Homo sapiens: one gene and its partners. The protein of the gene in region 3 purifies or fractionates together with the protein of the main gene of each other region. This does not show direct contact. Each region holds a gene or a part of one and is shown on either strand. Other genes may lie near its edges.

Evidence for each region.
Region 1: the proteins of SYPL2 (region 3) and RTN2 purify together in Homo sapiens (affinity purification with mass spectrometry; one large-scale study listed by BioGRID and IntAct). This does not show direct contact.
Region 2: the proteins of SYPL2 (region 3) and GCA purify together in Homo sapiens (affinity purification with mass spectrometry; one large-scale study listed by BioGRID and IntAct). This does not show direct contact.
Region 4: the proteins of SYPL2 (region 3) and TMEM192 purify together in Homo sapiens (affinity purification with mass spectrometry; 2 studies listed by BioGRID and IntAct, with this or other methods). This does not show direct contact.

Annotation. Positions count from the first base shown.
Region 1 is NC_000019.10:45,487,014-45,490,583, forward strand, and holds part of RTN2 (reticulon-2), read right to left. Parts: intron 2,541-3,570; coding exon 2,333-2,540; intron 1,974-2,332; coding exon 1,835-1,973; intron 1,694-1,834; coding exon 1,624-1,693; intron 1,505-1,623; coding exon 1,458-1,504; intron 1-1,457. UniProt on the Homo sapiens protein: Inhibits amyloid precursor protein processing, probably by blocking BACE1 activity. Enhances trafficking of the glutamate transporter SLC1A1/EAAC1 from the endoplasmic reticulum to the cell surface.
Region 2 is NC_000002.12:162,357,597-162,361,166, reverse strand, and holds part of GCA (grancalcin), read right to left. Parts: intron 2,124-3,570; coding exon 2,010-2,123; intron 1,674-2,009; coding exon 1,615-1,673; intron 951-1,614; coding exon 924-950; 3' UTR 1-923. UniProt on the Homo sapiens protein: Calcium-binding protein that may play a role in the adhesion of neutrophils to fibronectin. May play a role in the formation of focal adhesions.
Region 3 is NC_000001.11:109,472,976-109,476,545, reverse strand, and holds part of SYPL2 (synaptophysin-like protein 2), read right to left. Parts: intron 966-3,570; coding exon 841-965; intron 1-840.
Region 4 is NC_000004.12:165,099,334-165,102,903, reverse strand, and holds part of TMEM192 (transmembrane protein 192), read left to right. Parts: intron 1-2,011; coding exon 2,012-2,276; intron 2,277-3,570.

The DNA of each region.
Region 1 (3,570 bases), on a different chromosome or scaffold from region 3:
TGAGCCACCATGCCCAGCCTTTTTTTTTTTTTTTTTTTTTTTTTTTTTAGATAGGGTCTTGCTCTGTTGCCCAGGCTGGAGTGCAGTGGCATGATCACAGCTCACTGCAGCCTCTACCTCCTAGGGTTCAACTCATCCTCTTGCTTCAGCTTTCAGAGTAACTGGGACTATAGGTGTGTGCCACCACACCTGGCTAGTTTTTAACCTTTTTGTAGAGATGGGGGTCTTACTATGTTGCCGAGGCTGGTCTTGAACTTCTGGCCTCAAGCAATTCTCCTGTCTCAACCTCCCAAAGTGCCGGGATTACAGTTGTGAGCCACTGTGCCTGGCCTGATTTAAATACAGTTTAATTGTGAGTCTTGGTGATTCCAGCCTGTGAAGGACAGAGTTAGGACTAACTGGCAGGGCATATTATCATGTGGCTCCCAGCTGTGCTGGAGAAGGGGCTGTCAGTCCATCCGCCTGTCTCTGGATAGGATGGATGTCAGCAGTCCTGCTAATGTCAGTCTTGTGGGCAACAGCCATCCCACTCTTGATTTTATTTTTATGTTTTTATTTTTTATTTTTTGGTTTTTTTTTTTTTTTTTTTTGAGACAGACTCTTGCTCTGTCACCCAGGCTGGAATGCAGTAGCATTTAACTGACATGTCAGTTAAAATCAAGAGTGAAGGCCAATCTCAGCACTTTGGGAGGCCAACGCGGGCAGATCACCTGAGGTCGGGAGTTGGAGACCAGCCTGGCCAGCATGGTGAAACCCGGTCTCTACTAAAAATACAAAAAATTAGCCAGGCATGGTGGCAGGCACCTGTGATCCCAGCTACTCGGGAAGCTGAGGCAGGAGAATCGCTTGAACCTGGGAGGCAGAGGCTGCAGTGAGCCAAGATCGTGCCACTGCACTCCAGTCTGGGCAACAGAGCGAGACTCCATCTCAAAAAAAAAAAAAAAAAAAGGCAGCAAAGGCTAGGCACAGTGGCTCACGCCTGTAATCCCAGCACTTTGGGAGGCCAAGGTGGGCAGATCACTTGAGGTTAGGAGTTTGAGACCAGCCTGGCCAGCATGGCAAAACTCCGTCTCTGCTAAAAATACAAAAATTAGCCGGGCACGGTGGCCATATGCCTGTAATCCCAGCTACTCAGAGATTGAGGCAGGAGACTTGCTTGAGCCCAGGAAACGGAGGTTGCAGTGAGCCGAGATCACACCACTGCACTCCAGCCTGGGCAACAGAGCAAGACTCTGTCTCAAAGAAAACCCAAAACAAAACAAAAACAAACAAAAAGCCTGTCCCTGGCTGATGCTGATAAGACATGTTACTTAGACTCTGGTTGTATTGGGAAGGTGCTGCAGCCAGGACACCTGTGTCTGGCCGGGACATCTGTCAATGGGACCCCGGTTCTGGAAGGAGATGGTCAGACCCCCATGTTTAGCTGGGGTGCTGACAACTGAGGGTGTCACACTCACCTGGTGCTGCCGGTACAGCAGGGGGATGGTGAATAGACCAATCACTCCTGTGGGTACAGAGATGGGGGCGTCAGGGTGTTCCCAAGAGATGAACAGTTCCATCTGGAGCCCTGTCCCCCACCAGACTCCAAGTCCCCATTTGCCCCTTACGGCCTTCCCAGCTCACCCAGAATGAGAAGAGTCAAACCATTGAAGATGGCACCCACGAAGGTCAAGATGTAGAAGAGGAGGGCCAGCTGGGGGTGAAGGTCAGGGTCAGCAGAGCCCACCGGGAATTCCCTCTCATGCTGTGAATTTACCCAACAGTCGCCCTCCCACCCCCTAGCCATGCAGAGGTGAATGGGGGAACCCAGGAGGGGCTGAGAGCTCCAGGCCACCTTGAGGGAATCCACGAGGTCTTCTACCAGGAAGAAGTGCCGCAGCTGCGTGGCCGCCGAGACCACGCGGGAGGTGATCTGGTGGGACAAACGTTCCGTCTGCTCCCGAGTCAGGGTGAGGTCCACATCCAGGTAGGCCCTGCGGGGACAAAGGAGTGTGGGGCGACTCAGTGGGTGACCAGCTCAGACTGGTGCAGGGGCAGCTGAAACAAGGGAGAGGAATGGCGGTTGGGAGAAGACCAGAGTTAGGACTGAGGGGCAGCTCAGAGGAATCATATGTAGAGGGCTGGGGTCAGGGTCAGGGTCAGGGGAAGGGATCGAGGATGAAGGGTACCAGGTTAGGATCAGAGATTAGGATTGAAGGGTAGGTTAGGGGATCGGGATGAAAAATGATCAAGATGAGTCGGGGTCCGGGTGGGAGTCGGTGCCTGATTTGAGGTCGTGGGTCATGCTTTAGGGTCAGGACAGGGGCTCAGGTCAGGGGCCGGGGGTTCTCACTGGAAAGGGTTGGCTCCATCCCCCCGGTGCACGGCCTGCAGCACTTTGCGGTAAACCCTGAGAGAGATGGTGCCGCAGAGCAGCAACAGAGCCAAGTGCGCGGCCACGGACACGATGCTAAAGTGCAGGAGGCAGAGGAGGGAGACCATCAGGCCTGTGAAGACCACTCCTGACGTCCTCGTGTCCTTCCAGTACAGCAGGTCCGCCACTGTGGAGGGGTGGGGGGCATCAGGGCTTGTACCTGACCTGGCTGGTCTCCTCACCTCCCTTTCCCTGTCCTACAGCTGAAAATGACTTCTCGACACACCTGTTTGAGCATAACCTGATTTCCTTTTTTTTTTTTTTTTTTTGAGAGACAGGGTCTCACTCTGTCACCCAGGCTGGAGGCAGTGGTGCAATCATAGCTCACTGCAGCCTCGATCTCCTGGGCTCAAGTGATCCTCCCACGTCAGCCTCCTCAGTAGCTGGGACTACAGGTGTGCACCACCACTCAGCTAATTTTTGTTTTTGTTTCTGTTTTTAGAGGTAGGTGGCTCTCACTGTGTTGCCCAGGCTAGTCTCGAACTCCTGGCCTCAAGTTATCCTCCTGCATCAGCCCTCCAAAGTGCTGGGATTATACGTGTGAGGCACAGCACACAGCCCGATTTGCAATTTTTTAAAAATTATTTTATTTTATTTTTATTTTTTTCTCTATTGCCCAGGCTGGAGTGCAGTGGCGCAATCACGACTCACTGCAACCTCCGCCTCCCTGGTTCAAGCGATTCTCCTGCCTCAGCCTTCTAAGTAGCTGGGATTACAGGCATGTGCCACCATTCCCGGCTAATTTTTGTATTTTTAGTAGAGACGGGGTTTCACCATGTTGGTCAGGCTGGTCTCGAACTCCTGACCTCGTGGTCCACCCGCCTTGGCCTCCCAAAGTGCTGGGATTACAGGCATGTGCTACCGCGCCTGGCCTTAATTCATTATTTTAAAGAGCTGCATAGTATTCTGTGTTGTGGCTGTGCTCCTGTGCTCTCATTCATTTTATTTAACCATGTACCTATTGCTGGGTCATTCAGTTTGTTTCCTAACCCCTTCACCGCAAGCAGGGCTGCAAGCAACATCCTCCAACAGATATTCTCACCTCCTGGAGTGACTATTTCTGAGACAGATTCCCAGGGTGGAATTGCTGGGTGGACTGGTTGTGTGTCTGTGTGTGTGTGTGTGTGTGTGTGTGTGTGTGTGTTTTGTTTTTGTTT
Region 2 (3,570 bases), on a different chromosome or scaffold from region 3:
ATGTTAATGTTGTCAAATAAGTCAAATGTAAAATTTCTGAACAATTAGAGTGGTTAATTACTTGTTTATTTTTAAGTTTATAAAGAGTTGACATTACATTTAAACAACAATTTAATTAGGACAATTTTGAATGTTGACATATCATCAAAAACATATGCCATTTCTAAAAAGTCTAGATTCAGAGCAGGATGCCATTTTAGGTGAACTATGTCTTCACTAATGAAATAGGACGCAGAGAGAAATACTATGTTTATTAAGAACTTTTTGCTTAGAGAAGACAATAAAACATATTTAAGAAAAATATATAATACAAAAAATAAAAAAGGAAAAAACAATGCCTTCTGTAGTCTTATTTCACTACAGATTGAACTAGGGAGATAATTTTCTTCTTCACAGACAAAGATCTTTAAGTTTCTTTTCTCTGATTATTTGATCAAGGAACAAACTATATTACAAACATGGCACAAAATCCAGGCTTTCATTTCTAGCCAACCCTCAAACACCACCAACTACAAAGAAAATTTAAAAGTCTAATTTGTAACCTTCAGATAAGTATAAATTAGTTTTTTCTAGGCTTTCATTATTTGGCTTCTTATACAATCTATCTTGTAAAGTACATTCCTCTAAATTTACATTATCTAAAATTAAGGCTAAGCATTATTTAAATCAATTAATCATACAATATTTTATGACAATATGCACATATTTATAAAATAACTTTTCCAAAAGCAGTAATACCTCAAATTAAAAAAGAAATCTTTTATTGCTTTGAACTATCTGCTAAAATAAAAACACACAGAAAGGGAAGAGGTTTAACAGGTAGGAAGAACATAGAAAACCCTTAAAAGTTTTAAAGTAGTCCAGTTCACTTCTTCCAAACAAAAGAATTCACAGTGTCTCTTCAGGTTTAAAATTCTAAGCATTCAAATTGCCATAGTGCCCTGCAAAAACTAATACATAAGTGAAATTATTATCTATTAAGAATAAAATGGTTTTTAATTATTTTTGACTAATTATATTCCATAAGAGCATTTTCTTAAGAGAGAAAAGTTTGTTTCCAAGGCTTATAATTCAAGCCAATAAATATCAGTAATGTTGACCCCATAACTTCCATCAGTAAATATAAGAAAAACAAAACAAAAACCCTGAAACATTAAAGCACAGGTAAATATAACTGTCTTATACCTTGAATTTTAAAAAACCCTGAATATCAGGTTAATAGTAACCATTTGAAATGAGAAATGAACAGCTTCATAATCCGTCACGGATTAAAATTTTTCCCTCCCTGAGAAAAAATATCACTACAGTAAACTACCCTTTTTAAAAATAATGGTGGTTTTGGCCCTTAAAAGTGATTTGAAAGATCATTTTTTTTTTAATTCAAAAAACCTGTCATAAAAATTGAAAAGCATATTTACAATTTAACATGAAGTCAAATTGTTTGGCACCTATACCAATATTAATCTTATATTTGTGTTACACTGAAAAATATGGAAAAGTATGTGGCATACCAAATATATTATTTCCAGTACTGGTACTTGGGATCACTTAAATTTTTTTACTAACTGAGAACTATCTAGAATGCAGTATAAATATCAAAAGCAGGATACTCACATCGTCATATATGAAATTCGCAGACCCTTGTTGCAAGTGGTCTCTTTTCCTAAAGAAATCTTTAAACAAAGAAATTACTTTTTTATTGTAATTTAAAATACATAGTTTCAAATATTTAGTGCACCCAGGTACACAAAAAGAATAATTTCATATTCAATTAAATATTAAGTGATTGAATAGCCCTGGCAACAGAGATATGAGAAAAACTTCCAAAAATAACATAACGTTTTTATCATTTATATTCCTTAATATTTGAAGCCTTTAAACTAATTAGATTTAACAGTGAATAAAGGGAGAAAACACATATTATTATAAACTTGCTGGAGGAAATGAGACACATTATTCAAGAAAAATAGCTACATAACACTGTGCACTTAGTTTTAAATAGTCAATACCTGTCAATGCTCGAAGCTTCACACAGCAAGCAACATAATCATCAAAGAAAATTCTGCCATTCTTGCTATAACGTTTAACAATAGTAGTTAATGTTTGAGGACTCAACCTATAACCTAAAAAAGAGATAAATTAAAACTTCTAAATGTAAATAACATAAGAACACTGCAAGATTGCTTTCTCATTAAGTCATAAAATAACTTTCAAAATTCATTCCACAAAAATATAATTAGAAACAAAACACATGAATATTGAAATTCATCAGACAAAGGCTTCACTGTTAATCCTGTTAATCGGTATATAAATATCACAATTCTAACTTTGTAATAAAGTCAAAGCTAAGGAAAAGAAAATAATTCTCTTCTTATGAATTTATCATATATTGTTATTTTGAAATAATGTCTAATTTCATGGGTTTTAATGCTTCAATATTTCAAGTATGTAACTTTGTATAGTTCTTAAAGAATATAAATGCAAAGATTACTAATGATCTTTGTTATTCAAATGATATTTCCCACTGAACATATTACTTGCAAGTATCTTTTATAACTAAGAGAAATTTGAGGATCAACATGATTACTCTACAGGGGAAAAAAACAGAAAAACATTCTTTTTTGTCCTGGAATTCTTAGTGTTTCTTCATACACTGTAATAATAATAACAGCTTTCTCGCTATTTCACTGATTTCCTTGGTTCTTTGTTCAGTAGTCCTGTGATGTCCAAAATCTTTGATTTTTACTTATATCAATGAGAAAGAAGTTTTTGATCATTCACTCCCAGTATGTTTAAATTAATTTTAAATTCTATACATGTATTATTGTTTGATTACTCCTATTTTAAAAAATACATAAAATCTAAAATTTAAAACGAATACAACTGAATAAAAACATAAATTAATATATTCTACTTGCTGTACCCTTATAGATGGTCCTATGCATTTAATGAGATGTATACATTTTACTAAGAAGAATGGTAGCCCAGTATTATTGCCCATACATTACTGGATTTGTAGACTTGAACAAATGACACTAATCAATTCAAAGGTGAAAACAACCAAAATAAATGTAACAGGAGAAAATTATACATGCAGCTATAATAGAATGTAATGTGGGAAAGGTATAAATTGAAAGAAGCAGTAAAACATGCAAACTAATGTAATTATATGCAAATATATTTTGAACTTCATATTAGAGAGTTATGAGCTAAATGTGGTACTGATAAAATTCCTAGATTTTCCCATAGTATTCTCAGAAAAATAATTTGAATATTTTAAAATATACATGAAGATCTTAAATTTGGATAATCCAGAATACCCTTTTTACATTCCACTGCCTAACGGGAACTCTGGAGGTTTTCTTTTCTGCCAAAGATTACATTAATTTCCCAACATTAGGCTGAATTAAGGTCCAGGTTTAATCCATTAGGTATTAAGGATCTATAATTGAACTACATATGTTTATATGGGCTGGACTGTCCCTACTACTAAATTAAAATGTCTATTTATAAAACAAAACCAAACAAATCACTAATTTGACTTATTTAAATTGCAATTTGAGATAAGCC
Region 3 (3,570 bases):
ACCCTGCCCAGACATGGTGACCATGTATTCCCAAGTGTCTCCAGGGCCCTTTAGGTCACAACTGCAATATATGTAGTTCTTCTCTTTCTGGTAGCCAAACCACTAGGCAGATCAGCTTCATTCTGCCTCTGGAAAGTGCAGGCCCAGAGTGGCCAAGATAAGGTTGGAATCACCCATTCTCAGGCTTTATTGGGCTTTCCAATGAGACAGTGGACAAATTAAAGAGAAAAACACAGCCTATTATATATGAGACAGTTAATATAACTTGGGTGCTGATACTAGAAATTTCTGAAAAGGTGAGCCTCATCCCCATTTTCCCCTGAACACCTGGGCTCCCTACTTCCTAAGCTCTCAAATACCCAGAAAAGAGATCACTTCTACCTCCCTGTCAAGGTGTGCCCACTTGTATCCTGGTCGTACTGGCTGAGGATCCCACATCAACTCTTTAGGATGTAAGTACTAATAAGCTTCCCTACCTTCAAGGCAGAGAGGAGGCTACTGAGGGTCAGAGAGACCTGTCCAGCTTGTCCAGGTTCCTGTAAGCCTCCATCCCAAACTGCATTGGCTCTTTCTGTATGAGCTGGTGTGACCTGCCATGGGTTGTCCATGGACTGGAACATTATTATAACAGTGATCAATCTGTATTTCCCTTACGTTTTGCTCTGGTCAATGTGTCTGAAATTGCTAAAAAGCAGAAAGGATCTAAGTTTTGTCATTCTATTTGAATCTGGAGTGGCACGCAATGAATGGTTTTTAGGTTTCTGGAGGAGGAAGAGACCAAGCAGGTCCTGCCAGTCAAGTGAGAGATGATGTGCTGGGTTGGAACCAATTCTTGCTCACCTGAAGGGATAGCCAAATGCAACGATGATGGAGCTCACGTCCTTGGCTTCGTTGTTGCAGCGAACCATTGCTCCTGTCTCCCCGCTGTAGGAGCCACAGGACCCGAAGGCGAAAATAGCAAAGAGCTGAGAGAGAGTGAAGCCTCTTTGAGAGTCAGAAGGCCTCAACTGGCCAAAGTCGAGAACTAACCGTGACTCCCCGCAGGTGCAGACATTAAGTGCGGGAGTGGGGGAGAGTGAGGATCCCCTTTAATCAAGTTCTTCCTAGGTAGAAACCCATGGCTTCCATTTATCTTCCAGCCTCAGGCTGCTGGACCAAATAGCCAAATGAATACAAGGTTGACTGAGTGGTGTCTGCAAGGGAGATGAAGAGGCAGGAAATGGACAGTTGCCAGATCTCTCCATTGGGCATGACTTGGGGACCACAGGTAGCCTCCTTAAGATGACTAACACAAAACCTCTGCAATTCAGGCTTTAGGAAACTTCTAGCTTACAGATAGACTTGAATTTCCTTCCCAAGGGAGAGACACACTCAAAAAGATTCCCCTGCATCAACCTAGATCAGACATGCCTAGAACGCTTTTCATTTCTCCTTTGAACTAGTCATCTAATCTTGTTTCCTAGTTGCTAACTTCCAGTGGCTTCCTGCCTTGGTGGAGGTATAGCTGGAGGGGCCAGCTTCTACCAAGCCACCCCAGATGGGCCATACTACTGTCCCATAGTACTGACAGCCTAATTCCTCTTCCCCAAAAGGCACATGGCCTTCTAGCAATAGTGCTGGCTGGGCCAATGTGACAATCTTGGCTCAAGCCCAGAGAAAAGTACCCTCCACTTGCCTTATCAGTCTCCACTGTTTCCCCACTGGTATTTCCCTTTGTCATCTGTTGATGCTGCCATTTCTCAGTGTTAAGATCCAGAGGTGTCTCAGGTCACTCGAATTGTTTTCTTCTCCACCTTTCCTCACATTTTACTACACCTTCTCTCTCAAGTGAAATAAAATTTCCTCATCCTATGATTTTCAGATTTCTTTCTGGGAAACACACTTTGGTTAGAAAAGGAGGTGAGAGGCCAGGTGCGGTGGCTCACACCTGTAATCCCAGCACTTTGGGAGGCTGAGGCGGGTGGATCATTTGAGGTCAGGAGTTTGAGACCAACCTGGCCAACATGGTGAAACCCCATATCTACTAAAAATACAAAAATCAGCCTGGCGGTAGAGTGTCGCATGCCTGTAATCTCAGCTACTTGGGAGGCTGAGGCAGGAGAATCACTTGAACCCGGGAGGCGGAGGTTGCAGTGAGCCGAGATCGTGCCACTGCACTCCAGCCTGGCAACAGAATGAGACCTTGTCCCTCTCCCGCCCACCGCCAAAAAAAAAAAAAAAAAGAAAAGAAAAGAAAAGAAAAAAGAAAAGGAGGTGAGAAATTGAAATGTCTTATCCTCCACATCATCTGCTCAGATTGGATTTCCTGTGCACTTACCTTTGACTTGTACACAATGTCATGTTCTTATTAAGCAATGAGCTTATTCTCTTAATTGTTCACTCTCTGTATCTTTCTTCGAGACTCAGTGTCTTGGACATTAAGCACTTGGAAGACAGCTGATCTGTATGTCAGCCCTGCATCCAGAGTCTAGAATAGAAGCTATATGCACTTTATTTTGCCAATGCTTGTTAGCATTATGGAGTGAAAGGAGACCTGAACTAGGAGTATGGAAACCTAGGTTCCAGACCTGGTCCTGTCACTAATTAGCCAGGTGAGCTCTGATAAGTCACTCTGCTCTCTGAGTCTGTTTCCTCATCTTTTTTTTTTTTTTTAGATGGAGTCTTGCTCTGTCGCCCAGGCTGGAGTGTAGTGGCGCAATCTTGGCTCACTGCAAGCTGCACCTCCTGCGTTCACACCATTCTCCTGCCTCAGCCTGTTGAGTAGCTGGGACTATAGGCGCCCACCACCATGCCCAGCTAATTTTTTGTATTTTTTTTAGTAGAGACGGGTTTTCACCGTGTTAGCCAGGATGGTCTCGGTCTCCTGACCTTGTGATCCGCCCGCCTCAACCTCCCAAAGTGCTGGGATTATAGGCATGAGCCCAGCCTGTTTCCTCATCTTAAATGGAGGGGTTTGGAGTAGATAATCTAGAGGCCCTTTCCAGCCCTGGAACTCTCTCACTCTCTGAGAGTAACACTGTCAGTGTACTCTTGACTGGGCTTGCCAACAGCTGTGCTTTGCCCCTGCGAGGTGTCCAGTGCCACTGCCCCCGGCTTGCAGCGCCTGGCCTTGCAGATCTCCATGCTGGAGCCATTGGCCTCTCTCCAAATAATGGGCACCTCTCTGTTTTCAGGAGGTTTATTCCAGACAAATGAGAATTGTCTCCATGTTTAAAGATATCTGGGAAAGAAGACAGTAAAACCTCCCTCCAATGCCTAAATACCCTCCTCTCCTGAATTAAATGATGAAGACTGCAGTAGAGCCCTGTCTGCCCGCCTTCTTCACAGAGGTAGAGAAGAGTCACTCGAAGCCTCTGCATCATTACCCTTTACTTACTCAAAGTGGCCTCACCATTGTAATAGTGGAACTTCTCTAACTCTTCCTCATAGGAATTCGCTAATCTTTTGTCAGTTCTGTGGCCATCTGATTCCTCTTAGAAGTTTCTTTATTCCTCTTAGCTTCTGGTGCCCAGAACTGGATGTGATTAGGGTGTCACATTCTGGGAAGGGCAGCACAGTTGGAAATATTTT
Region 4 (3,570 bases), on a different chromosome or scaffold from region 3:
AAAATTATATAAGTGTTTCAGAGGGCAGTTGTGCTGTATCTATCAACATTTAAAATGTAGGGCACATGTTCTTAGGACATCCTGAGTGCTGTGTCATGGGCAAAAAAAAAAAAAAAAAAGTACGTACACTTTTACTTATATCTTCAAATAATTCATTGTGGATATATTTGCACACATGTAAAGATATTGTTGATAATAGCCATGTTGTCTGTCATATCAAGAGACTACAAACTACCTGGCTACTTGGCATCCAGAAGACACTGTGTGTCCCATTCATATAAGGAAATGCTATGCAACTGTTAAGAATGGGGTGGATAGGTATACAGTATATTAACATAGAATAGCCTTCATGATTACATTGTCGAGTGAAAAAAAATCAAGTTTTCAACCTTGTGTACAGAATGTTCCTATCTGCAGTTTTTAAAAGGGAGTTGAGAGGGCTGTTGTGGACCTGTTTTCCTGTATATAATAGAATATTTCTAGAAGCATTCACAGACCTAGTTGCCTCTGAAATGAGGACTGAGGGTCTTGGTGGAAGAGACACTAATATAATTTACTGTTTACTTTTGAATACTACTTGATTTTTTAACCATGTGCTTGTATTACTTTTTCAGTTACAAAAAAGATGCAGAAAAGTCTACATATGTTGACACAGGAATTTATCAATTTACTTATACCTAGGGAATAATGTTTAGCAGACAAATCAAGTTGCAGTGGAATAATATGTACAATTTTTGTATGATGACAAAATTACAACTATCTGGAGTTTATAAAAACACATGTGCAAAAGGTCTTATCGCAGGCCTCACTGGTGGTGACTCCACTGCCAGTCTGTTTAATCAGTTCCTCCCTTTCGACGATTGCAGTTGGAAGCACTAGGGGTTATAGTTGTTCTCTGCTGCAATGTGAAAAATCAAGAGGGCTCATTCTCACCACTCCTTGAGTATTTACGAGGACTGTGAATGGAGTTGATTGACTTGCTCAGCCTCTGCTCAGCCTCCTACTGATAGGTTTGCCTGTCTGCAGGGACCGTATCCCTCAGCACATTTCCTGGCTTCCCCTGCAGCTGGGATTCCTCTCCAGTGAAGTGCACTGTGGGAGACTTGAGTTCAGAACTGAATCACTGGGGAGAGAGGTGGTATCCCCTTTCCTTGAGGGAACTAGTAGCTGTGGTATGGCTCCACCATGGCTTCCTGATCCCCAGATCCCAGCTGAAGCGCTTTCTTCTTGGTACCACCATGTGCAGGGGTGGCCTTGTGGTTTCCAGATGGTGACCTCTTTTTCTTCTTTCCTTTTACTTTTTGTGTAACATACTCTGTACCAGCCTGGGTGCCATAGCAAGAACCTGTCTCTATAAAAACTTCTTAAAATTGGCCAGGCATGGTGGCACAGGCCTGTAGTTCCAGCTACTCCAGAGACTGAGGTAGGAGGATCGCTTGAGCCCAGGAGGTTGAGGCTGCAGTGAGCAGAGATGGCACCACTGCACTCCAGCCTGGGCAACAGGGCAAGACCGTATCTCACACAGAAAACAAAAATACATTTAAACAAAACAAAACGAAAATACATTTAAAAACTCATTTATAAAAATAGGACAGGGGAAGCTGTAGGTATAAGAATGTATGCTGGGAAGCCGGGTGCGGTGGCTCACACCTGTAATTCCAGCACTTTGGGAGGCTGAGGTGGGTGGATCATGAGGTCAGGAGATCGATATCATCCTGGCTAACATGGTGAAACCCCGTCTCTACTAAAAATGCAAAAAGTTAGCCAGGCGTGGTGGCGGGTGCCTGTAGTCCCAGCTACTCGGGAGGCTGAGGCAGGAGAATGGCGTGAACCCGGGAGGTGGAGCTTGCAGTAAGCCGAGATTGCGCCACTGCACTCCAGCCTGGGCGACAGAGTGAGACTCTGTCTCAGAAAAAAAAAAAAAAAAAAAAAGAATGTATGCTGGGATGGTAGTTATTGCTTCCTAATTACAAATATTGAATATTAATCTTTCTGCTCTCCTTTCCCCCAGCTCGTGTTTGTTGTTTTAGCATTTTTAACAGGTGTGCTTTGTTCTTATCCTAATCCAAATGAGGACAAGTGCCCAGGAAATTACACAAACCCATTGAAAGTTCAGACGGTTATAATCCTTGGGAAAGTTATTTTGTGGATTCTCCATTTACTCCTTGAATGCTACATCCAGTATCACCACAGCAAAATCAGAAACCGAGGCTATAACTTGATCTACCGATCAACAAGGCATCTCAAGAGACTTGCGTTGATGATACAGTCCTCTGGTATGTCCAATTTTCTCTCAGCTACTTGGGTGCTTGAGGGACAAAAATGACAGCAGAAAGAATATATGAAGTTTGATTTTAGAATCAAATATATTCTCTCATTTTTGTAAGGTTGATGTGTGTTCTGACCACTAAAATTTGGATCACCTTAATGTCTTAAAGCTTTTCTTGGCCGGGTGCGGTGGCTCACGCCTATAATCCCAGCACTTTGGAATGCTGAGGTGGGCAGATCACGAGGTCAGGAGATCGAGACCATCCTGGCCAACATGGTGAAACCCCGTCTCTACTAAAAATACAAAAATTAGCTGGGCGTGGTGGTGCATGCCTGTAATCCCAGCTACTCAGGAGGCTGAGGCAGGAGAATTGCTTGAACCAGGGAGTCAGAGGTTGCAGTGAGCTGAGACTGTGCCACTGCACTCCAGCCTGGCAACACAGCGAGACTCCATCTCAAAAAAAAAAAAAAAAGAACTTTTATTATGAAATATATAGCCTTAATTTTCATTTGAAATCTGTTATTTGTTATGAACATGGTGTCCTCATAGCATGTGTGAAGTGTGGAATTATACCCTCTTTTGTTACCAGGTGGTTTACTCATCTCATAAAGATAGAAATGCTGTTGCTATTTGACATTTCTGAGGATAGGGAGAGGGAATTTTTAAATTTTATTTTATTTTCTCTGAGGCAGGGCCTTGCTCTGTCACCCAAGACTGAAAGGCAGTGGGGCCTTCATGGCTCACTGTAGCCTGGAATTCCTGGGCTTAAGCAATCCTCCCACCTCAGCCTCCTGAGTAGCTGAGACTACAGGTGCATGCCACCACACCCGGCTAATTTTTTTAAACATTTTATGTAGAAGCAGGTTCTCACCATGTTGCCCAGGTTGGTCACTGGAACTCCTGGCCTCAAACAACCCTCCTGCCTCAGGCTCCCAAAGCTCTAGGATTACAGGTGTGAGCCAGTCCTGGTGGGAACTTTTTAAAAATGAAGCTCAGTGCTTTTCTTGCAGTAGGAGACAGTAATGGTTAGTTCCTAGGATAGAGGACTGTTAGGCAGTGAGATGCATTATATCAAACAGAAAACTTGGAAAACACACAGGTCCTAATTTATGAAGGCAAGATCAGAAGGTCCACATGAGACTTAGAATGCATGAGTACTTGCTTTTCTTTATCGTTGCAGACATTTTAAAGATTTAATGGAATTAAATTGAACTTCTTTAGGTAAATTTGGCATTAAGTTATAGTAAATGGCCGGGCACAGTAGCTCATGCCTGTAATCCCAGCACTTTGGGAGGCTGAGG